Linked DNA regions of Homo sapiens. The protein of the gene in region 1 interacts with the protein of each later gene in a pairwise test. Each region holds a gene or a part of one and is shown in the gene's direction. Other genes may lie near its edges. The genes, in order: SYT16, MTFR1, HIGD1C and TVP23B.

Region 1 (3,395 bases):
TGAAGACGTGATCCCAAATTTAGTGACTCTGTAGTGTCTTTTGTTGAGCAATGAGTTAAATACCTGTCGATAAAAAGTGTTAATTATGTTATTACTGATTCATGATAGAAAATCACCTTCTGTCGCTAGTTTATATGACTTTACATTTACCACTCCTGCCAAGAGAAAGGAAGCTTTGTGATTGTGCCCCGTCATAGTTAATTGTACAAATCAATTAAAAATGGTATGTAAGCATCTGGCTCACACAGCAGCTCTGAATTCTGAATGAAAAGATAACCCATGCTAATGTATATGTTGCATGAACAAGTAGATGGGTGTTGGAAAGAAAACACTGATAGTCACTCTGGGTGAAGGGGGAGGCCTGGCCAATGATTTGTATCTGAGAAACATTTTGAGATTATTTATATGTCTTCTGACTGCCCTTTGCTTTGTAGCTACAGCAACTTGCAGAACCTGGCATTATTGCAGAGATGAAGGTATAGTTGTATAAAGAATATTGGATTAAAGTTGATGAGGCCTGTGTTCTGATATCAAATCTTCCACTAATGAGCTCTAAAATGAATATCAAGTCACAATTTTTTCAAGCCTTCATTGTTGCATCTATCAGATGGGAATAGTAATACTCATTTTACCTATTTTTACCAGGTGGTTGTAGGAACAGGATTCATTCATTCCTTCATTAATATAATGAACACTTTGAGACCCCACTATATAACAGGGCCATACATATGACAAGGTGATAGATGGAAAGACGTTTTGCAGAATTTTTGAAGACTTGCAATGTTTTTGAAGACTACAGGATAGTTTGTGATTTTTATATTAAGGTCGTATCAACTCTTTATGTCAATATATCAAAGTAATTGACACTTTTAGAGCTCTGCCAATCAGTGGGCCATATTCATAGAATGTCAGTAATCTGTCTGAATACAAGTTATAGTTGGTCTTTAGCTGTTCTGTCTCTGAGGAGCTAGAAATAAAATATTAGGTTCTAATTTTTTTTTGTTCAAACACTGATCATGTAACAAACTGCAAATCCATGTTTTCAGCAGGTTCGCCAACCTTTGAGTTGAATGCAGACCTTTCTTTAGAACAACCTAACTTTGAGTACAGGCAAAGTATTAAATGGAATAGCTTTTCCTCCCCTACAAAGTGGATTTGAATACAGTCCTTAGAAAAATTCTTCCCCTGCCAAAAAAGGTCCTTCAATCTCCTTTATTATTTTTCTTTTGAAGAATCAAACTTGTCCATCTCTCCCCTCCCAAGTGACTTTCCTCACTCATGTAATCATTTTCTTCATAAATGCCCTTTTACTATCCCACAGAAAAAGTAAAGATTTAAAAAATCATTTTTAAGGTACATCCAAGATTTCATAGCAATATTTTATTTGTGTTCACAGTGCAAGATAAATCTGACTTTCTCAATATTTTTGGTCTTCATATGGCATCTGAAACAGTTGTTCACATTCACACATTTATGTTTCACCATATGCATACTGTGTACAGCTCTGTTGTTCTAAAATATTTTATTGGTTTTCCTTTATATCTCAACTTTTGATGGGTGTCCTTGAAGAACTTTCATGAAAAAAATGTAAATGTGAATGATTCATTCATTTTGAACATATGTAACTATTTTAGGAGATTTTCAGGAGATTTTACCCTACATGGAGTACACTGTTCTTAGCAGGGAATGTGCTTTATATTACTATTCTACTCACAGCTGGATGCTGCAGATGTATTAACATTGTAAACATGTACTTTTTCTATTCTATGCTTACTTTAATACATTATTTATATGTGCTAGACTGTGCTGAGTTTTGGTGGTTGTCAAAGGCAGTCAGTAATTTTATAAATTTCACTTTTGTGGATAGTTAAGTATAACATGGTTTAGTATAAAATCTGGTCTTCCTCTAGATTTCTAAGTCACTAGAAGAATTTCTTGGCAAATTGATTGTTCAAGGCCAGTTTTGTTAGTTGTAAGGTGGAAGCCACCCCAATCCTCTCCCAGTGTTTCATAGGCATTTTCAGACCTGGATGCTATTATAGTTCCTCCTCTAGTTTTCCAGTAGAGAATTCGTATGTGGTCCAGAGGTTCAAGAGAGAGAGAGAAAAAATTTCTCCTCAAAAGAATTGAACCCTTACTTTAGAAACTTCTGACAATCTTCAGAACATTCCATGTGGGTGTCCTTGTGTTTCTCATAGTATGACTTATTGATTCATGGTGTCTCTTATTAAAGAAGCATGAATGTATCACTAGCTGTTACCAGAACAAACAGCTGTAGAATGTAATGACCCATCCTATTTCTAAATTTACTTCTATCAGTGGATAATTTGTGTATAGGAAAAGGTGTGGAAATTTTTTAATTGTTAAAAACTGGAATACCTTTCTACCTTTTGTAGTCTTTAAGATTTCATAATGATGGTTTTAATGTATTACTATCTTACTATTATGTATTGTGTTTAAACAAGACCAATCAGTGAAATATTGAATGTCAATACTTTTTGTTAGAAATGCCCTCTGAAAATGTTAGAAAATGTAAAACTTTACCTGTGACAAGGAATAAATTCATGATTAGAAGAATTATACTGTTTTTCTTGTGCAAATAATACTTAAGGCAGATGTTCAGTCTCACAGTGATGTTGGAAAGCATATTTTATGCAGTCTAAACACTATTTCTGTATTAGATATTTAAATGCATGAGGATAAATTCTAATTGCTTTTTGTTTAAAACAGAAACATAGAAGAAGCATTAGCCCCAGTTTGTATAAAATGTCTGCTGCAACTGAATTCATGATAGTTCATGAAAACTGAAAATCATTCCAATTTTGTAAAACTGCTGCTACTGGTTTTATCAATAAAGTTTTAGCAGATGGCTTATATGTACATGTGTGAAAATTTTTTATGTTAAAAAAAGATACAGTTTTGCAGCATCAACATGCAAATTTTATGGGCCTGAATGATACTGCTTATTTTAGTATATACAAAAACCATTAACTTCAAAACCATACCAACTGCAGACATATATTTTAGAACTATAAGCATTACATGTATGATCCATACAGTTTATTTGGTTTCAGGGTGCTGTAGGCTTTTATGGTGAACACATATACAAATCAACATATACCAGTTCAAATGCTGACTTGAAGAACATCAGGTAAGGAGCTATATAAATGTAAGGATCACCTGAATTAATTAAATTGCATCTAAAGGGGATTCTGAGAAGGCAAACTGCAAAGTGTAGGTGTTCATGTACAAAAGTGTATGTAATTCCTCATTAGAGAAGCTCTTGTCCAGAACACTTTCCCCTCTATGAATACCCAGTTCTCAAAAGTTAACAAGGCTCAGATGCAACAAGCTAGAAGTAGAGGGAGCTGAGTTATTATATTCGGACACCTACA
Region 2 (7,000 bases), on another chromosome or scaffold:
TGGAAATTGTCCTTTGCATCCCATGCCTGTGTCACTCAATGAATGCTTCCCTCACCAACACCTGAAACGGCCTTTTATAAAGAAGATTTTCTTCTAGTTTTATTTTGTCTTTTGAATGAGTTTGACTTAAATGCCAAAACTATTTTGTTTTGTGGGACAGGATTTCAAGTACAAATGACATACATCTTATCAGTTTTGGAATTGGTTCTTGAGAGCATCATTAACATTTTCATCTTATTGAGCACATATTATGGACTTGGTATCATTTGCCTAATTAAGGCTTAAGTAAGATCCAAATTAAGTCCGTGGAATAGTTTGTTGTATCTTGTTGTTTTGTTTTTTTAAAGTTTGTGCAAAAGCTGGCATTTTATGTTTAACATATTAATTTTATGGAGGCATTATTTAATTTTATAGATGTAAAATTGAGAAATGTGTTTAATCCTTAATTACTATTTATGATATCCTGAAAATGAGTTAACTTATATTTCTTTGAATATGTATTCTTAGAAAAGTAGTACTGGCTGGGCGTGGTGGTGCATACCTATAATCCCAGCACTTTGGGAGGCTGAGGCAGGTGGAACCCCCGAGCCCAGGAATTTGAGACCAGCCTGGGCAACATGGCGATACCCCCCATCTCTACCAAAAATACAAAAAATGAGCCAGGTGTCGTGGTGTGTGCCAGTAATTCTGGAGGCTTACGCAGGTGAATTGCTTGAACTTGGGAGGCGGGAGGTTGCAGTGAGCCGAGATGGTACCACTGCACTCCAACCTGAGTGACAGAGTGAGACCTGGTCTCAACAACAACAAAAAAGAAAAGTAGTACTTTGTTTTTTTGTTTTTCTTTTTTTCTTCCCTCCTCCCCACACTTTGTTTCCTTTTATAGATGTTTTAGAAGAAAACAGCTATTTTTGTAACTTCTGTAGGAAAGTAAGAAGTCTTTGTCTTAAATATGCCTAACTTTCTACCAACTAGTCATTATATTGGAACAGAATTTTTATTTCTAAACAAAGGGTCATGATCAGATTGATCATCTCATGAAATAGCACCTTAGGAAGGCACCATTCAGATTTTAGTCTTAGGATTTGTCTAACACTTATACAAAACAGCCCATTAAATACCATCTCTGCTAGGAGCCTCACAGGGCTTGGGGAACATTCCTGCTGAAGGATAGCCACATAACCCATTTAGAATCTCCTTATTACAGTGTTATGGGAATATCAGGATACCATTCTGTTTTCAGTAATGGGTAGGAACAGAACATTACCTGATTTCTCAACTCTTGAGATCAAATATGATACCCAGTTGTGTTATTTAAGTTGTATGAGATACCCATTTGCTGAATATCTGTTTGGATAAGTTTCTGAACTACAAAGGGAAGTACAAAAATCTTCCCTTTGATCTTATACCTTGAGAATTTACTTACTGAAGTTCATGCTTTTTTCCTCATCTGACTACAAATTACTTCCACTACATGCAAATTGGTATTTTGAAAGCCTTTTTATCATAATTTCATTATTAGGTTTATTTGTTTTTGTTTTTGTGGAAGGCAAGATTTTAAAATTTCTATTTTTTGAGACAGAGTCTCACTCTGTTGCCCGGGCTGGAGTGTGGTGGTGCGATCATGCCTCACTGCAGCCTCTGCCTCCTGGGTTCAAATGATTCTCCCACCTCAGCCTCCCAAGTAGCTGTGACTACAGGTGCATGCCACCATGCCTAGCTAATTATTTTGTATTTTTAGTAGAGACAGGTGTTTTGCCATGTTGCCCAGGCTCGTCTCAAGCTCCTGGGGCCTCAAGCCATCCGCCATCTTGTCCTCCCAAAGTGCCAGGATTACAGGCGTGAGCCACCGCACCTGGCTGAATTTAAGGTGCTTTAGATACTCGATGTTCTTAGTACTTTATTGTTAACATGTTTTTGGATTTTGGTTTTTTTTTGTGACCGAGTCTTGCTCTGTCGCCCAGGCTGGATTGCAGTAGCGCAATCTCAGCTCACTGCAACCTCTACCTCCCATGTTGAAGTGATTCTCATGCCTCAGCCACCCTAGTGGCTCGGGTTACAGGCGCCTGCCACCACGCCCAGCCCTTAAAATGTTATTTTTAATGCTACTTTATTAAGTTGATTAGATAATTATACCAGGAGAGTACACATACCAACAACTGATATGTTTAAAGTTTTATTCATAATATTACATTAAAGATATTTTAAACTTTCAACAATGTTAGTATTATGTGTCACATGATATATTTTGTGTTTAAGGAAGAGGCATTATTTAAGTATATCTTCCAAAAGTTTGACTTGGCAATGATGGCATTGAGGAGGTTTGAACAATGCATGAGTCCCAAGGGTAACCTTTTTGATAAACATATTAATGACTGAATCTCTTTGGCCTTTTCATTTTTTCCTTAATTAAAAAGTGTGGATTGATTATTTTTCTTTTTTATTTAAACCTCACTCATACTTTTAGTAAGTATTAATCTGATAACTTTATTTAAAAATTATTATTCGTTGACTTTTTGACTCAGGCATTATTATATGTATAACAAAATCTAAATTTAACTCAGTTATCTTTTTTGTTTTTCAAGATAAATTTCAAGATATCCTGCTTGTCTTTTCTTTTTCTTTTTGAGACTGTCTCACCCTGTCACCCAGGCTGGAGTGCAGTGGTGCAATCTTGGCTCACTGCAACTGCCGCCTCCCGGGTTCAAGTAATCCTCCCACCTCAGCCTCCTGAGTAGCTAGGATTACAGGTGTGTGCTACCACGCCTGGCTAATTTTTTTGTATTTTCAGTAGAGATGGGGTTTCACCATGTTGGCCAAGCTGGTTTCGAACTCCTGACCTCAAGTGATCCGCCTGCCTTGGCCTCCCAAAGTACTGGGACTGTAGGCAGGAACCACTGCACCTGGCTGTCTTTTTTTTTTTGTATTTATTTCAAAATATTCTGTTTGCATCCATGTTAAGTTTAGGTAGAGAATTCTGTTCTGCTGTTTGTTCTTTTGTTCTTTAATGCTTTTACTTAAAATTTAGGGGATTTAAGGAGTTTTAAAAAACATTTTCAACATTATAATATATACATATATAAAAACATTGAACAAAACAGCTATATAATAGCCATTTAAAAATATTCCTGGATTTAGCTCAAGTTGGTCTTTTGCTTGTTCTTTTTTTTTTTTTTTACCCCCGAGACAGAGTCTTGCTCTGTCACCCAGGCTGGAGTATAGTGGCACGATCTCGGCTCACCGCAACCTCCACTTCCCGGTTTGCTTGTTCTTATACCCCCCGCCTACACATACCTTTTAAAATCTCTTTAGAAAAAAGTGGTTTCTCATGCTTAGATTCAAAAATTTTTCTTAATTTTCTAGGATAGTTTTTTAAAAAATCAACTTATAGGCTGGGCACAGTGGCTCACGTCTGTAATCCCAGCACTTTGGGAGGCTGAGGCAGGCCGATCACAAGGTCAGGCGTTCGAGACCCGCCTGGTCAACATGGTGAAACCTCATCTCTACTAAAAACACAAAAATTAGCTGGGCATGGTGGCGTGTGCCTGTAGTCCCAGCTACTCAGGAGGCTGAGGCAGAAGAATCGCTTGAACCCGGGAGGCGGAGGTTGCAGTGAGCCAAAGATAGAGCCACTGCACTCCAGCCTGGGCGACAGAGCTAGACTTTGTCTCAAAAAAAAAAAAATCAACTTATAAAATGAAAACTGAATAAAGTTATAGTTCTGAGATTGTCATATACTATTAGGCAACAATATGATTATGACTATTAATCATGGAGACCTTCAGTGGAAGAGTTAGAAACCACTCATGTGTTTTTAACACCAGAGCTGACGATTTTCCTTTAGGTGAGTAAAAAAAATTTAACATTTTGGTGCCATCTTTGGTGAAGAACTTTCCCTATTTATAACTTACAGATTAACAGCCATGCAACAGAATGGAGTCCCAGCCACCCAGGAGAGGATGCAGTGGCGTCTTTTGCTGATGTTGGATGGGTAGCCAAAGAAGAAGGAGAGTGTTCAGCAAGACTAAGGTTAGTTTGGAAGGCTATCAGAACTGAGATGCAATATCTATTTTTTTAAAGAATGATATTATTTGCAGTACTTATTTTTAATAGCCTAATTTTATCTCTAGTAATGCACCCTCTTCTTTTTCTTGAACAGTCTTCTTTTCTGTTTATTTTCCTTTTTTTCTGAGATTGGGTCTTGTTCTGTTTTTCAGGCTGGAGTGCAGTGGTGTGATCTTGCTTCACTGCAGCCTTGACCTCCCAGGCTCATGTGATTCTCCCACCTCAGCCTCCCAAGTAGCTGGGATCACAGGCATGCACCACCAACCCTGGCTAATTCTTTTTTTTTTTTTTTTTTTTTAGATAGAGTCTTGTTCTGTCACCCACGCTCCAGTGCAGTGGCGTGATCTCGGCTCATTGCAACCTCCACCTCACAGGTTCAAGCGATTCTCCTGCCTCAGCTTCCTGAGTAGCTGGGGCTACAGGCACGCACCACCACACCCAGCTAATTTTTGTATTTTTAGTAGAGATGGGGTTTCGCCATGTTAGCCAGGCTGGTCTTGATCTCCTGACCTCAGATGATCCACCCGCCTTGCCCTCCTAAAGTGCTGGGATTACAGACGTGAGCCACCACGCCCAGCCTATTTTTTACTTTTTTTGTAGAGATGAGTTTTCACCATGTTGCCTAGGCTAGTCTGTTCGTTTTCAAGACTTGACTAGTATTTATAAAGTTTTTAGAGACATATAATTATGTCCTAAGTCCTCATTGACAGAATTCTTTGTCCTTCAGCAGTTTACATTCTAATGTAAGAGACCAGAAACAATGATCATTAATTTTTAGATAAGTACAGTAATTATAATGGTCTCATTGGGGCAAAGGGATCAATCTGGATCATAGTAGAGAATTTGTGTAATTGGAGAATGTTTCCTAAAAATTTTGAGTCAAAAGGAGATTAAGAAGGAAATCAGTTGATACTGTAAAGTCTACAAAGTAATTACAGATGGTCACTGCAGGATGAGAGATGTTCAGCAAGACTTCTCAGGAGGAAATGCTAGAGCTCCATCATGAGGGCTGAGTGGGAGCCAAGTAAATGGAAGGCTGGTATTCCTGGAAGAGTAAAGAACTTGTTTAAAGGTAAAACCAGGAGACATTGTGGCATGTTTGGGAACTGCCAGATGGCTCAATGAGACTAGAGAGCAGAAAAGAAGGATAAGCTGTGGGAGATGAGGACGAGAAGTAGGTAGAGGTTTGAAGGTCTTACACGTGACTCTAAGAAACATAGAAAAGTTCACGTTTGTGGAAAGCAATATAGAACCTGAAAGCAGTGTGGAACCATGGAAGAAATTTGAGCACTAGTAAAATCAACATGTAAACAGTATGAAGAATAGAAAAGAGCCAGACCAAGAAATAGACCAACTAGGAGATGATCAGAATTTAACTGAATTAAGAAACTGGCAGAAGAGGTTCAAAGCCAAGTGAGATTCATAAGAATTAAAATGACATAGAAACTTATTAGATATGGAGATTAACGAAGGAAGAGCCTACGTAGTCAGAGTCTAGTTATCCTAAATTCTCAGGTTTCCATGTAGGATAATTATAAGGATGGTGAAACAATTTTTTTTTTTGTTTTGTTTTTGAGATGGAGCCTCACTTGGTTGCCCGAGTGAGGCTGGAGTGCAGTGGTGCGATCTGGGCTCACTGCAACCCCCACCTCCCGGGTTCTATCAATTCTCCTGCCTCAGCCTTCCGAGTAGCTGGGATTCCAGGTGGCTGCCATGATGCCCAGCTGATTTTTGTATTTTTAGTAGAGACGGGGTTTCACCACGTTGGCCAGGCTGGTCTTGAACTCCTGACCCCAGGTGATCCACCTGCCTTGACTTCTCAGAGTGCTGGGATTATAGGCGTGAGCCACCGCACCTAGCTATAATGTATAGGAATATAGGAAAACAGATTGTTTTGGCTGGGGGTAATAAGAGAGGGTAGTCTAGTCTGGAATATATTATGTTTGAGTTTTCTGTGAGATATTCACCTTGATCTAGAAACAGTTTATGTGAATGGATATTGGTAAGGAAGGCCTATACTCTATAACATTTAGATAGAACGGCTGAATATGAGAGTGCCCAAGAAGCATGTATAGAACGTGAAGAGCATTTGTACCCTGAGTGAAGCCAGCATTTTGAAGTTAAAGGAAAGAAAAAGCCTCCTCCCCCATCACCCTCCCCAACCCCAACCCATCACCCAAAGAGCTAAGCGGCAGGAGAAGACCTGGTAGAGGGTATTGTTATGGAAGCAGAGGAGGTAGAGTTTTTATTGAAGAGGAGTAGTGATCAGTGTCAAATACTTAGAGGCTGGGTAAATAGAAAAACTAGCAAGTTTCAATTTTGTTTTTCAGTTGGAAGATTATCATTGACTTCAGCAAGAGTAATTTCATTTGAGTAGTATTAGCTGGATAAAATAAGAATAAAATAAGAGCAAACAAGGAATTTGATTTGAATGACAAATAGAAATAAGGACATAGCAGTAGATAAACACAGGGATTGCAGGATTAGCAGGTAAAGAGCCTTTCTTTTTTAAGATGTTTATTTTATTTAAACTTTTTATTTTGAGATAATTGTAGATTCTTCACATGCATATTTATAAGAAACAATACAGAGAAATTCCCCATGCTTTTCACTCAGTCTCCTTCAATGGTAACATCCTGCAAAACTATAGTACAATATCACAGCAGGGTATTGATGTTGATAAGTCAAGATGCAGGACATTTCCATGCTACAGAGATCCTCCAGTTGCCCTGTTATAGCCACACATACTTCTCTTCCATCCCCAACCTCAACTCCTTCTTAATGGCTAGCAACTACTAATCTGTTCATTTTAACTATTTTATCATTTAAAGAATGTTACATACATTGAATCATGTAATATGTAACTTTTTTTTTTATTTTTTTGAGACAGAGTCTCACTCTGTCACCCAGGCTGGAGTGCGGGGATGCAGTCTTGGCT
Region 3 (7,515 bases), on another chromosome or scaffold:
ACTCTAGGTTTCAAAAAGAAAATTAGGCTGCATTTTATAGAATAGCTCACATTTGTCTCTGACACATCTCCCCATGCTAAAATTATAATTTCTATTTCTGGAACCTTCCCTACATGATCACTTGACTCAGAATCCTTTGATGACTCTAAGCATATCTTCTAATCCTCCCCCAATCTCTTCACAACTTTAAAATTATGAAACCTAACAAATAAGTTATTGAATATGCAAAATGACCATTATACACATGAAAATATGTTCAATTTCACTCATAATACAAGAAATGCTCATCAAAACTGCTGTAAGGTACCATTTCTTACACATCAGATTGGTGAAAACTTCTAAAGCCTGACAACACATTCTGTTGGGCAGGCTGTGGAGAAAGAGACACTTCTGTAGATTGCTGGTGGGAATGCCAATATATTAAAACCTTGTAGGGAAATCTGGCAATATCTAAAAAACTAAACTTTATTTTCCTTTGACCCAGCAATTCCACTTCTGGGAATTTACCCTGAAAATATACCTTCAATAATATAAAAACACCGCCGGGTGCAGTGACTCATGCCTGTAATCCCAGCACTTTGGGAGGCCGAGGAGGGTGGATCATGAGGTCAAGAGATTGAGACCATCCTGACCAACGTGGTGAAACCCTGTCTCTACTAAAAATACAAAAATTATCTGGGCATGGTGGCATGTGCCTGTAGTTCCTTCCAGCTACTTGGGAGGCTGAGGCAGGAGAATCGCTGGAACCCAGGAGATGGAGGTTGCAGTGAGCTGAGATTGCACCACTGCACTCCAGCCTGGCGACAGAGCGAGGAGGAGGGGGGAGGGGAGGGGGAGGGGAGGGGGAGGGGGAGGGGGGAGGGGGGGAGGGGGGGAGGGGGAGGGGAGGAGGAGGAGGAGGAGGAGACAACACATATGCACGAGGTTATTCCTTGCAGCATTGTTTGCTGTAATGTCTCCAGCCTACATGCTCACTCACATCTAGGAGAGCATTTAAACTATGCTATACCCACACAGTGGAGGACTATGCAGCTATAAAACAGAATGAAGAAAAGATCCCTAGAATGTGAAGTCCTCCACTCTCTGCTTGTAGATTTCGGATGCTTTCTTCAGGATCCTTTCCATTTGACACTTCTCTTGCATCTTTCTAAGGCCATCTGGGCTGGGGTCCACTTGTCCAGGCTGTGTCGCTTCTCCCCCTTGTTCTTTTTGCTCATTGCCATGGCTTTCAGGAAATTTGCCTTGCCTTTGTCCTTCTTTTTCTTCTTCTGCTTGATCACACTGAGCTCTGCAATGCCTTTCAGCTAAAGGGGTCCCTTCTGGACCTGCTCAGAGGCTGTCACGGCACCCGCCGCAGTTTGGTAGGCAGACTGCCCTGGTTATTCTAATGATCAAATTGTCCCAGATTTCGCTATTGGAAACCCCTTTAAGCTGGCTCCTGTTGTCTATTGACATGTCTCATTATTCTTTGAATGCTTCTTTTTTTTTTTTTTTTTTTTTTTTTGAGATGGAGTCTCACTCTGTCGTCCAGGCTGGAATGCAGTGGAGTGACCTCAGCTCACTGCAACCTTCGTCTCCCAGGTTCAAGCTATTCTCCTGCCTCAGCCTCCTCAGTAGCTGCGATTACAGGCATGTGCCACCTCACCTGGCTAATCTTTGTATTTTTAGTAGAGACAGGGTTTCACCATGTTGATCAGGCTGGTCTCAAACTCCTGGCCTCAAGTGATTGGCCTGCCTTAGCCTCCCAAAGTGCTGGGATTAAGGCGTGAGCAGTGAGACAACATAGCCTAGGTAGCAGAACCACCACCCAAGGCAGGAATGGAACATACACCTTGTCCCTTTCTGAGCTCATTCCCCCAAAACCCCACTTCCAGACACTTCTAATGTGTATTGCCAGGGCAGGTATTTATAATCAATCACGGTTTCTTTGTAATGGAACCCAGACACAGTCTGCCTCATAACCCTCATCTCTGGGCTCCAAGCAGCCTCTTGTATTTACTCAGAGTTAGCCCATCACCTGGAGCCTATTTGGCATTCCAGCCTTAAGGACACCTCACGGGTGACAGGACCAAGGCACAGCCCCAGTGTAAACAGACATGGGTGCAGTCAAATGGGAGGGTCCAGGTACCAGTGCTGATGGGCCAGCGTCTTCAAGGGCCTACTTAACCTAGATGAGGATCAAACTACATGTGCTGCTGGGAGAAACAGTCTCTGCTGATACAGATATTGAATGAATAACAAAGGCAGAAGAGAAAAATCAAGCATGGAGTTTGAGGTTGGCCCATGTAAACTACAGAATAAAGCAAAAACCAGTTATTTTAAAATAAAATAAAATAAAAATAATCATAGTGATGGATTATAAGCCACTGAATAAAATAGGAATGCAAGAGTCCAAACTGATAAAAGATTAAATAGAGAAGAAAGAAAAGCTATTCCTCATTAGAATGCCTACTAATAAATGGTTGTTTGTTTTTGAGATGGAATTTCCCTCTGTCACCCAGACTGAGTGCAGTGGCGCAATCTTGGCTCGTTGCAACCTCCACCTCCTGAGTTCAAGCAATTCTCCTGCCTCAGCCTCCCCAAGTAGCTGGGATTACAGGCACGCACCATCATGCCCAGCTAATTTTTTTTTTTTTTTTTTTTTTTTGAGATGGAGTCTCATTCTGTCACCCAGGCTGGAGTGCAGTGGTGCCATCTCAGCTCAGTGCAACCTCCGCCTCCCAGATTCATGCCATTCTCCTGCCTCAGCCTCCCGAGTAGCTGGGACTACAGGCGCCTGCCACCACGCCCAGCTAATTTTTTTTGTATTTTTAGTAGAGATGAGGTTTCACCATGTTAGCCCGGCTGGTCTTGAACTCTTGACTTCAGGTGATCCACCTGCCTTGCTTGGCTTCCCAAAGTGCTGGGATTACAGGCATGAGCCACCGCGCCCGGCCATAAGTTTTTTTTTAAGGTGATATATTTAGAAAAACCACCATTTAGCAAACTAAAATTAATGGATTCAAGCAAGGATCATCAACAGACACTGAAATTAATGGGTAAAAGTCTGACAAATAACAGGATATTTGTATAATATTAAAGTACCTGTTCAGAAACTACTTATTAATTAAAAGGGAGAAAAAAAAGTAACCACAGTGGAGAACCAGGCAGACACCACGTTAATCCACATGATGAAAGCAGTGGTGTGCTAGAGCCCATTCCTACCAACCCAGGAAAGGGACATTTCCCAACTTTGTGTTCCGTGATGACAGACTCTATTTAGAAATTGGGCATGGTGGGAATATTTACAACACAGAATGGGGCAATGGCAAATGCCACAGAACAGGGCAATATCTCCCCCTCCAGAGCCAGTTGAGTTGTTAAACATTTGTCAGCACCACACTGGATCAAAGTTAACTACCACCAGGCAATTCAACTTTCTGTGTCTCCTGATATTTCACACTAAGAAGAGCACAACATCATTTTTGTCATATTCTGCCCAAAATGTATGACCTCAATCTAGTGAGAAAACATGAGTTGGGGGAGGGGACGGGAACACAGGATTAGATTGAGAGGCATCCTACAAAATAACTGGCAAAACATCAAGGTCGGCTGGGCGCGGTGGCTCACACCTGTAATTTCAGCACTTTTGGGAGGCCAAGGTGGGTGGATCACCTGAGATCAGGGGTTTGAGACCAGCCCGACCAACATTGTGAAACAAAATCTCTACTAAAAATACAAAAAAATTAGCCGGGCGTGGTGTGGCGCTTCTATAGTCCTAGCTACTCGGGAGGCTGAGGCAGGAGAATTGCTTGAACCAAGGAGACAGAGGTTGCAGTGAGCCAAGATTGCGCCATCACACTCCAGCCAGGGTGACAAGAGCGAAACTCCATCTCAAAAAAAAAAAAAAAGAAAAAAAAATCAAGGTCAAGACAGACAAAGATGATTAGGAAGGTGTTTCAGACTAAAGGAGACTAAAGAAACAGGACAACTAAATGCAATATATGATCCTAATTGGATGCTAGACCAGAAATTTTTTTTTTTTTTTTTTTTTGCTATTAAGGACATAATTGGGACAACTGGTGAATATGAATAAAATCTTTAGATTGAAAAACAGAATTATATCAATGTTAAGTTTCTGATTTTGAACACTGTACTATGGTTATATAATAAAAGAATGCCCCAAATGCATACAAAAGTATATGGAAGAAAAGGCATAAGTCTGCTACTGTCAGGTGGTTCGCCAAAAATATTTTTTAAAGAAAGAAACATGTTAATAAAGGAAAATGCGGGTACCAGACACACAGTTCTTTGTACTATTCTGGGGACTTTTCTATAAGTCTGAAATTATTTAAACATTAAGTTACAAGGGAAAAACCATGAACGCTACCTGATCCTCTGCCCTCATCTCTAGGTCCACATGGCTGCAGTCGGAGGGAGGCGGTGAGCAAGGTGTTCTCCAAGGTCTCAAGGGGCCCCAAGGCTACAAGGTCAGAACAGAAGCAAAGGCCACGTCCACCACCGACCCACCTCAAGAGCCACAGCCTCTCGGGTCTCCACAGCCCCACTCAGGTCTCACACACAGGCGCAGGGACTAGCCACAGGTGCAGCAACGTCACGTCTTTCCCCTGGGCGCGTGTGCAGCTCGAGGCTTTGCAGGAGGCGCACCTGCGATGGCCTTACCGCCAGGTGAGCCCGGCGGGCTCTCATCGCCTCAGCCGGAGATTCCAACTGCAGGGAGCGCACCTCCTCTGGCTAGGGCGTGTTTCCGAAGGATGGCAAGAATCCTGGCCTCTGATGGCTATCTTCTCCCCTTCCCCTCCAAGCCCAGTGTTGTGACCCTGTGCCCTCTTTCCCCTCAATTTTGGGCCCAGGAGTCAGGTACTAAGACTCAACAGTCACAGAGGGAAGTCAGGAGCTCCCTTGTGAAGGCAGACTTAAGCAAATGCATCTTCTTCCAAAGCCTTCATGTTTTTCTTAATGTTGGCTTCAAAAGCCTAGTTTGTGGCCCAGGCTGCTACTGGTGAGTTTCTAGCAGGGTGCTGGAAATCTTGGCCAATACCAGCCGACCACTCCCCCAGTCCCCTGGGGCGTGTTTCTGGGCTTTCCCATTATCAATTAGTTGGAAATTGCACATCGTGTCCTGGCCTTACAACAAACACCTGTTCTGATCTACAGCCTCTTGCTGAAGGAACAACAGGAGACAGACAGCAGGTGGCGGGGTGTGCCACAGGTATTGTGCTTCTTACGCTTAAGTTTTCTGATGAAGTCTCATTCATAGGATGAAGCCGCTGTATTTGAATTCTGGGGTGAACACAATAAGCTGCACAGGGAACAGACTCAGGCGCTGCTAAATCTGTTGTGATTATAGTTGCTTTTGCAAGTTTCTTCATTCATCCTATGTAGACAAGCCAGGCTAGACAAGGAATCCATTGTCTAGCATAGCAACTGGCACACAGTAGGTGCTTGGTAAATATCTGAATGACTTTATAATGCCCTGCACATTCTGCAGAGTTGAAGTGATCATTCTCCCAATACCTGTAAATCTGGAAGTATTTTTGCCTATGTTGGCACTGCCATACTTCTTTAAAATGATACTTTAAAAAGAAAATGTGTTCTTCAAATACAGTGCTTGTGGAAGAAGTCCTGAGGTTCCCAGTGATCTCAAATGCTGAGCAGTGGAAAGGAGACTGAATAACAGCATTATGATCTGTGTTTTTACTCTGTATTCATGAAATCTGATTATCATTTCCTCTATGTATTTTTTTCTTATCCCCTTCCCCTGCAAAATGAAAAAATTCGGTAGTGAAAAGTGTGAAGGAAAGACAATTGTTTCAGTTGAGCAGATAGGCTTATCAAACAAATGAAAACAAAAAAACACATAATCAAGAGTATGATGGGAGAGGAAAAACAAATTATTTTTAATGATTCACGGCAACCACATTTATATCCTATTGTTACTAGAGAAAAAAATGTCTTCAGATAACCAGTGGTCAGCAGATGAGGATGAAGGCCAATTATCCCGACTAATCAGGAAATCTAGAGACTCCCCCTTTGTCCCTATAGGTAAGTACAAGCCTTGACTGGATGCAGAAAACTGTAATAACACAATGATGCCTTACCCAGTGCCTTTGCGGATTGAAATGTTTCTTATAATTGAATTTTTTCAGATAATTGAAGCTAACCTCCTCTAAGCATGTGTTGAACTTTCAGAATAGTTCCTAATACATGGTAAGCCCCCAGTAAATGTTAGCTGTTATTTGAGGCATCAAATTTTATTCTATTTTATCCATTTCATTAGAAGTCTACCTAAAATTATTAGTTCCTAGCCAGTCAAATGGAATAGATTGAATGAATATTAACATTTCAGTCATAACTCAGGACCATCAACAGCAGCATCAGTTTATTATATTTAAAGCCTATTAGGGACTATTGAGATGCATATGTCTCTTTGTCTTGTAAGTAATCTAAACTTTAAGTTCTTACATCTTCTGTTTATAGATTTTTCTGTTTCTATCTTACTATTGGGCACATTAAAAACTTCTGCTTCTAGGCCGGGCACGGTGGCTCATGCCTGTAATCCCAGCGCTTTGGGAGGCCGAGGTGGGAGGATTGCTTGAGCTCAGGAGGTGCAGGTTGCGGTGAGCCAAGATCACACCACTGCACTTCAGCCTGGGTGACATAGTGAGACCCTGTCTCAAAAACAAACAAACAAATAAACAAAAAACCAAAAACTTCTGCATCTAATGTTTTTAATGCTCTGTAGCACCAGAAGCTAGATAACCAAGCTTGAAAGAACTGTGGGTCAATTCAGAGGAAAGCTCTGAGTAAAAGCCTGGATCTATCTGAACACTTGTGAGCATGAACTTTGGAGTGGTCATTTTGGCTGCTCAGTGGCCCTCTGTGCTGGCTTCTTGGTGTGCTCCAGGTGTTGAGTTTGATGGCAAAATAAATTCTGGACTAAAGAAGTGATACTATAATTAGGCCGGGCACAGTGGCTCACTCCTGTAATCCCAGCACTTTGAGAGGCCGAGGCAGGTGGATCACTTGAGGTCAGGAATTCAAGACCAGCCTGGCCAATAGGGTGAAACCCCATCTCTACTAAAAATACAAAAAGTTGGCTGGGCATTGTGGCACACACCTGTAATCCCAGCTACTCAGGAGGCTGAGGCACCAGAATCACTTGAACCCGGGAGGTAGAGGTTGGGTGCAGAGCGAGACTCCATCTCAAAAAATAAAAAAGAGAGATACTATAATTAGATCACCTAATAATCTGGACCCTTAGCCTCTTTATCCTTTCCCCACACATATTTAGTATGTTTACATTTTCAACAAGTATTATGTGTATGTGGACTTTAAAAAACCCCACAAAACCTAAGCACCAATATTATGTTTTGAAGTCTGAGCTTTCTCTTTCTTCTCCATGGATGTATACTGCAGCCATGCCTGTTTCCTTGTGTTCATTTTGTCTGGAAACTATTAAAATAGTTTACTTAAATCAGACTGACATAAGTTTGCAAAAATATTAATTCCATA
Region 4 (7,866 bases), on another chromosome or scaffold:
AAAAAAAAGTTTCTGGACATCATGACTCATGACTGGGATGTCCCTTTGTTATTTTTTAAGGACATTGGTAAAAATTTAAAATGTCTTTCAAATATTTTTGGCTAGTATAGTAGTGTTTCTTTGGAACAAACTCTGTGCAGAGACTGGTTTGAAGTTGACGGGAAAACAATTATTTTATGAGGGCTGCGCTAACAATGGGCATCCTTGTATATACCTATGTCAGTGTACCTGTACAGGTATACCTGAAGGGTAAAGTCCTACGAGTGAAATTGCTAAGCCAAAGGATAAGTGCATTCAAAAACTAGAAAGATATTGCCAAGGTTGTCCTGAAAAATACTGTATCAATTTACACTCCTACTTGCAATATATGAGAGACCCCACTGCATTTGTGCCAACTCTGGGTGTTAGCTGGCATTTTGTAGTTGCTTGTATAAGTAAAAATGGGGTCCGCATTTTCTTCTAGGTTGACCATTAACAAACTAAATGTCCATCAATGGGCAATGGCTAAGTAATAAAAAAATCTATTGTATGGAATATTATATACAGCTAAAAATTGTATGATGAGGATCTGTATATACTAACTTGGAAAGAGATCCACAATACATTATCATTTGAAAAAAGACAAATTAATAAACAATGAGCTCATCACAATTCCTTTTTTTATAAAAGGAGAAAAATTCTCTTTTTGAGTTTGCAAGGAGAATAGGGAAGATTTTGACATCTTGATTTCACTCAGTTTTTTTTTTTTTTTTTGAGATGGAGTCTCACTCTGTTGCCCAGGCTGGAGTGCAGTGGCGTGATCTCGGCTCACCGCAACCTCTGCCTCCTGAGTTCAAGCGATTCTCCTGCCTCAGCCTCCTCAGTAGCTAGGATTACAGGCGCCTGCCACCACGCCCGGCTAATTTTTTTGTATTTTTAGTACAGACGGGTTTTCTCCATGTTGGTCAGGCTGGTCTCGAACTCCCGACCTCAGGTGATCTACCCACCTAGGCCTCCCAAAGTGCTGGGATTACAGGCATGAGCCACCGCACCCAGCCTGAAGACAGGTTTTATTTTGGGCAACATTCAAGATTACTTGGAGTCAAATTTGATTAATAAGGTAAAGATCAAATTTTGCAACATAATTACTGTTGAAAAATAGTTATGCTACTATAAATTTATAAGATCTGCTTTGTGTGAATCATAAATGAGATGTGAAGGTCATTCCCAACTTCACATTTTCTTTTTTTTTTTTTGAGACTGAGTCTTGCTCTGTCGCCCAGGCTGGAGTGCAGTGGCGCGATCTTGGCTTACTGCAAGCTCTGCCTCCTGGGTTCATGCCATTCTCCTGCCTCAGCCTCCCGAGTAGCTGGGACTACAGGCGCCCGCCGCCATGCCGGGCTAATTTTTTGTATTTTTAGTAGAGACGGGGTTTCACCGTGTTAGCCAGGATGGTCTGGATCTCCTGACCTCGTGATCCACCCTCCTGGGTCTCCCAAAGTGTGGGGATTACAGGCGTGAGCCACCGCGCCCGGCCTCAACTTCACATTTTCAAAAATATGTGTAGCATTGAAATCACATCTGTTGCATTCAAAATATGCTCACTTAGAGGCTAATATACTCTTTACTCAATACTAGCATTTTATTAAAAACTTGTTTTATTGGCCGGCTGCGGTGGCTCATGCCTGTAATCCCAGCACTTTGGGAGGCCGAGGCGGGTGGATCACGAGGTCAGGAGATCGAGGCCATCCTGGCTAACACGGTGAAACCCTGTCTCTACTAAAAAAAATACAAAAAATTAGCCAGGCATGGTGGCGGACGCCTGTAGTCTCAGCTACTTGGGAGGCTGAGGCAGGAGAACGGCGTGAACCCGGAAGGCAGAGCTTGCAGTGAGCAGAGATCATGCCACTGCACTCCAGCCTGGGTGACAGAGCGAGACTCCGTCTCAAAAACAAAAACAAACAAACAAAAAAATTTGTTTTATTAAATTGTTTCTAGTATCAGCATTTCTAATACCACTCAGGGTGCCTGCCTGTATGATGGCATACCTGTTGGGCAACAAAGACCTCAATGTGCTTCGAAGTTTGAATGCCCAAGTACTTAATGCATACGTACTTAATATTTTTCATAGAACGCCGATTTTTTAAAATTTTCTTTTTTTTGAAAAAGCAGATGATGTGGAGAAAGCACAAAAACAAGGACAATTGGAAACTCCTGGAAAACTGCCCAGTCACCCAAAGAAAAAGTCTTGGAAAATCCCTATGTCACCTGACCAATTCCTCCTGACTGTTAGCGCCCTGCAGCACGCCCATAATTCCGGGGAATTTGCCTATCCCTGTAGGCCCCAAACAGAAATTACTGATGTCTGGGGACCTTCAATTTCATACCCAAGGAAGGTCTTGAATTTCAAAGGAAAATCAATCCAACGTGCAGTTGATCGGTTGAGATTGAGCAATCCTCCTATAGATGTGAAACGAACCAGTATTCCCCTTGAAATCCAGAAACTGCAGCCCAACTTGAAGATCTCTTTGCACAGTCCTAGAGTCCAGTCCACCATACCCCAGCCCATGATTATCCGCTCCAGGTTCTCTGGCAGCTTAAAGGGTGGAGACCAAGTGACCAGTTCAATTGAAAGGGCTGTGTGCAGTACGGGTCCCCTGACCAGTATGCAGGTCATTAAACCAAACCGCATGCTAGCTCCACAAGTGGGCACAGCCACCCTGTCTCTTAAGAAAGAACGGCCTCGCATCTATACAGCCCTTGATCCTTTTAGAGTGAACACTGAGTTCGTGCTGTTGACCGTGAAGGAGGAGAAGGAGCACCAGGAAGCCAAGATGAAGGAATATCAGGCCAGGGAGTCCACTGGAGTGGTTGATCCAGGAAAAGTCAGCAAAGCTGCATGGATCAGGAAGATCAAAGGCCTGCCTATTGATAATTTCACGAAGCAAGGGAAAACAGCGGCCCCTGAACTTGGACAAAATGTATTTATCTAAACCAGCCTTGGGAAATTACAATGTTTTACAATAAACAGAAAGCCAAGCGGATGTTGCTATTTGGCCTTTTTTTTTTTTTTTTTGACTGTTTCTTCCTGGTAATTAATGTGGGAACTCCCAGTTATCTTCCTCTGAGCCAAATATTTGATATCATCAAAATAAGAAAACAGAAGGAGGTTGGGCGAGATTAGCATCTGTAGTCCCACTGAAAACAATTTAGTGAGCATTAGGAAAGCCCAGTTTCGTTGATGGGGGATGGGGAGATGATCACTGGAAATTAGATACCATTCATCACTACCAATTTAGTGCTATTAGTTCTTCTGGCAAATGAAGTTATGGGATTATATCAGGGTCATGCATTGGTGTTTTCTGGTATTTTTGCACAGAAGCCTGATAAAACCCATTAAGAATTTAAAAGGGGAAGCCCTCAGTGGGGTGGACCTGTTGCATTTGACAACATTGAGCTTTTCCTTCTCAGGGCTAACTCCTAAGGAAGAGAATTAGCATATTTATCCTCTGTACAAAGAGGGCCAGTAACATCAAGTGCATTGAGGTTTCTGCTTAAACCTTTGGACTATGGTGCAGGGACCAGGTAATTTAGAAGAGTGCAGCCCACTACAAGAGCTATGGCCCATTAGAAAGTTCAAGCCTTGACCAGGTGCGGTGGCTCACGCCTGTAGTCCCAGCACTTTGGGAGACTGAGGCGGGTGGCTCACCTGAGATCAGGAGTTTGATACCAGCCTGACCATCGTGGTGAAACCTCGTTTCTACTAAAAATACAAAATTAGCTTTAAAAATTAGCTATTAAAAATTAAAAGACGATAATGAATTCAAACACAATGTCTTAAAAAACCAAAAACTACGAAAAACAACACAAAACTCCACAGCACTGAGTGGACCACTGAAAACCTGCCATGGGCAGGCTGGACGTACAGGCCCCAAATTTGTTAGCTTTTCATCTCCAAGGGCACGAATGCAATTGTGCTGCCGAAATGTCTTGCCTTTAGAAACGCGTGTGTGTGTTTTCCCCCTTTCATTATTAGAATATCAGGTTTTAAATGGCACTGGCAATCAGCCACGTAAAATTTGTGATTTTAATAGAATCCCTTCAATTAAGGACACGTGCAAATACCACTATGCCAACAGCAGTCTGACTCGGCCAGACAGATAGGATATTGTCATCATCACCGCTTCAAAGATGACTTAACGCCCCTTAATTTCACATCCTTTGTTCAGGCAAGATCACAGCATGAGCGGCTGGACTTAAAACTGTAGTAAGTATAACGTCTCCCATTTACTAGATACTTACACTGTAAGGAAACCATTATCACCCCCACTTTACAACTGATGAAAGAAGTACATAAAGGTTGGTGATATGATTGGCAATAGAGTTCCCAGGCGCCTAAGCTCCAGGGCGCAAGGTCTCAACTCCTGGCGTCTAAGTTTATACCTCCCATAATAATACCGTCCATTAGTTACTCTAGAGTCCTCCTGCCTTGTTTTTCTTAACGTTTTACTTCTCTGCAAGAACATATTTTAAAAAGTTGCTTCTACAATTTAAAGTACAAAAGTAATACTGTACAGGAGTAAGTCTTTGTAAAATATTTAAAGAAAATTATATTATACAATAAAACCCCGCCCCCCTGCATTCGGGGCAGCGACACTGGGGGAACGACTTTAGAATTTGCATTGGGTGGACAGCAAATACTTCCGTAAAACAGACCATGAAGCTTTCCACTTAGAGCCCACTGTGGCCCCAATACCTTTCCCTTTCGCTCCTGCTCCAGGCTCCGCCTCCGCCGTGTCCGGGCCGCTCGCCCCGCCCCCGCTCGCCCCGCCCCTGGATTTGCTCCCTCAAAGCGGAAGTGAGGCCGGACTGAGGCTCTTACAGTGGTCCCTGCTGGCCCTTGGTGACGGGTCGCCTCAGTTCCGACCCGGACCCGTACGCTGCTGCGCTGACGTGGCTCCCGGAAGTAGGGCTGGCGTAGGGCCGCCATGTTGCAGCAGGTGAGGGGCTGAGGGCTCGCTGGGAGGGTGGCGGCTCCTGGGACTGGCTCTGCAGGTTCCGTGGGACTGGAGCCCGCGTCCCCCGCGCCCGCTACTCGAACTCGAGGAGGAGCGGGGCGGCCGGGAGTGGAGGGCTGTGGGTAGTTGTCTGAGGAGGGCTGCTGGGGGTTCTGAGGCCGCTGGGGGCGGCGTGACCCGTGCGGCGCAGAGCAAGTACTTCTTGCGGCTGTGGGGACGCCCATTGTTAACCAGCGCGAGTGGGGGTCTCTCTTTCCTCAACCCTTATTGCCGGGGTGGAGTTGAGGAGGAGCGGCCTGCGGGCCTCTTAGCTTCCTGACACCCAGGGGTGCGATGCTATTTTGTAGGAATCGGCGACACCGCCAGAGCCTCGCTTTCAAATTGCTGTTTCCAAACTAATGTTGTTGGTGATTCTCTCCTTTGTGCTCTTAGAGTTAATTGTAGTCCACATGTTGGCAACCAGAGACTCGTAAGATTAATAATATTTTTAGAAAAAACTACTGTTTATGGTCACTTAGATTGTCTTAAGTGTTTTTTTCTTTCGGTTCACACAAAATTTGTTGAGGGATTACTATGACTCAGACACGGTTGTAGGCCCAGGGATAGGGTTGTGACCAGTACAGACAGGTTTCTTGCCCCGTATTTTTGGGTTAGGGAAGTGGGTTCTAGGAGATGGGGGTTGGGTGGGGAGACACGATAAATTGTATAACCAAAGATATTTTCAGATAATTGCAAAGGCAGGGTGATGAAATAACAAGTGTCTGAGGATAGGACAACTAAGATTTATGGTCAGGAAAGACTGCTTATGAGGAGATGCCTTGAGTGGAGAAAATCTAATAATGGTTAAATTCAGCTGTATTACAGGAAAGGTGTCCCGATCCAGACCCGAAAAGAGGGTCCTTGGCCGGGCGTGGTGACTCAGGCCTGTAATCCCAGCACTTTGGGAGGACGAGGTGGGTGGATCATGAGGTCAAGAGATCGAGACCATCCTGGCCAACTTGGTGAAACCCTGTCTCTACTAAAAATACAAAAATTAGTTGGGCGTGATGGTGCACGCCTGTAGTCCCAGCTACTCGGGAGGCTGAGGCAGGAGAATCGCTTGAACTGGGGAGGCTGAGGTTGCAGTGAGCCGCGGGCCACTGCACTCCATCCAGCCTGGCTACAGAGGGAGACTCCGTCTCAAACAAAACAAAAAAAGTCTTGGATCAGGCAAGAAGGAATTCAGGGTGAGTCCACAGTGCAAAGTGAAAGCAAGTTTATTAAGAAAGTAAAGGAGTGGCTACTCCATAGAGCAACCTGGAGGGCTGCTGGTGGCCCATTTTTATGGGTATTTCTTAGTGGTATGGTTAACAAGGGGTGGATTATTCATTCCTCCCCTTTTAGATCATAGAGAGTAACTTCCTGATGTTGCCATGGCATTTGTAAACTGGCATGGCGCTGATGGGAGTCTAGTAGTGAGGACGACCAGTGGTCACTCTCGTGGCCATCTTGGTCTTGGTGGGTTTTGGCTGGCTCCTTTATTGCAACCTGTTTTTTCAGCAAGGTCTTTATGACCTGTATTTTGTGCCGACCTCACATCTCATCCTGTGATTTAGAATGCCCTGTCTGGGAATGCAGCCCAGTAGGTTTCAGCCTCATTTTACCCAGCTCCTATTGAAGATGGAGTTGTTCAGGTTCACATGCTTCTGACATTTGAACCTGCGCCCAGGCCGGATGAGGCTGGAGAAACACAACAATGTTGACTGTTCCCACTATTTATTTATTTATTGATTGATTGATTGATTCATTCATTCATTTATGAGACGGAGTTTCACTCTTGTTGCCCAGGCTGGAGTACAATGGTGTGATCTCGGCTCACTGCAACCTCTGCCTCCCGGCTTCAAGCGATTCTTCTGCCTCACCCTCCAGAGTAGCTGGGATTACAGGCGCCTGCCACCACGCCCGGCTAATTTTTGTATTTTTAGTAGAGATGGGGTTTCACCATATTAACCAGGCTGGTCTTGAGCTCCTGACCTCAGGTGATCCACCCGCCTCAGCCTTCCAAAGTGCTAGGATTACAGGCGTGAGCCGCCAGGCCCGGCCGACGGTTCCCACTTGATAAATTTGTGACGTGAACCTCAGTCGAGCCCTTAGTGCTGCCAGGCGGTCATTCTACATTTCCATAGCCCCTTCACCCTCTCGCCTTAGGCAACTATTAAAACTCAAATCTTCAACGTTTCTTCTCTTATCCTCTCTCAGCTGGTAACGTTGCTTCTTGTTTCACTGAAAATGGAAGCCGTCGGAAGACAATTTTCACACTAGCTGCCTAGTTGCATGTTTACTCAGGGTCTCATATTCTTTTATGATAATTGGACTGTTAGTGCTCCATTCTTAGGTCTTCCTGTCTACTGTGTCCTGGTTTCCATCTCCTCTTGCCTACTGGAAGGCATTGTTCTAGTAATTCTCTTTCTTGTATCATCAGTTTTTTAATCCTTTTAAACGTTTGCTCACATCAACATATAAACGTGCTTTAATTTCTCTTACCTTAAAAAATGAAAACTTGGCCGGGCGCGGTGGCTCACGCCTGTAATCCCAGCACTTTGGGAGGCCGAAGCGGGTGGATCACGAGGTCAGGAGATCGAGACCATCCTGGCTAACACGGTGAAACCCCGTCTGTACTAAAAAACAACAAATTAGCCGGGGGTGGTGGCGGGCACCTGTAGTCCCAGCTACTCGGGAAGCTGAGGCAGGAGAATGGCATAAACCTGGGAGGCGGAGCTTGCAGTGAGCCGAGATCGCGCCACTGCACTCCAGCCTGGGCGACAGAGCCAGACTCCGTCTCAAAACAAACAAACAAACAAACAAAACAAACTTGACACCACATGCTCTT

What was found.
Region 2: the proteins of SYT16 (region 1) and MTFR1 interact in binary tests that used the Homo sapiens proteins (3 or more experiments, as listed by UniProt).
Region 3: the proteins of SYT16 (region 1) and HIGD1C interact in binary tests that used the Homo sapiens proteins (3 or more experiments, as listed by UniProt).
Region 4: the proteins of SYT16 (region 1) and TVP23B interact in binary tests that used the Homo sapiens proteins (3 or more experiments, as listed by UniProt).

What each region holds. Positions count from the first base shown.
Region 1 is NC_000014.9:62,109,675-62,113,069, forward strand, and holds the end of SYT16 (synaptotagmin-16), read left to right. Parts: 3' UTR 1-2,876; downstream 2,877-3,395. UniProt on the Homo sapiens protein: May be involved in the trafficking and exocytosis of secretory vesicles in non-neuronal tissues. Is Ca(2+)-independent.
Region 2 is NC_000008.11:65,689,734-65,696,733, forward strand, and holds part of MTFR1 (mitochondrial fission regulator 1 isoform 1 precursor), read left to right. Parts: intron 1-3,910; coding exon 3,911-4,026; intron 4,027-7,000. UniProt on the Homo sapiens protein: May play a role in mitochondrial aerobic respiration. May also regulate mitochondrial organization and fission.
Region 3 is NC_000012.12:50,948,048-50,955,562, forward strand, and holds the start of HIGD1C (HIG1 domain family member 1C), read left to right. Parts: upstream 1-4,496; 5' UTR 4,497-4,652; coding exon of another isoform or gene 4,653-4,668; exon of another isoform or gene 4,669-5,157; coding exon of another isoform or gene 5,158-5,212; exon of another isoform or gene 5,213-5,761; intron 5,762-5,943; coding exon of another isoform or gene 5,944-5,951; coding exon 5,952-6,045; intron 6,046-7,515.
Region 4 is NC_000017.11:18,776,327-18,784,192, forward strand, and holds the start of TVP23B (Golgi apparatus membrane protein TVP23 homolog B), read left to right. Parts: upstream 1-4,856; 5' UTR 4,857-4,967; coding exon 4,968-4,979; intron 4,980-4,987; exon of another isoform or gene 4,988-6,223; intron 6,224-7,866. Other genes in the region: FBXW10 (F-box/WD repeat-containing protein 10), read left to right, coding at 2,149-2,972.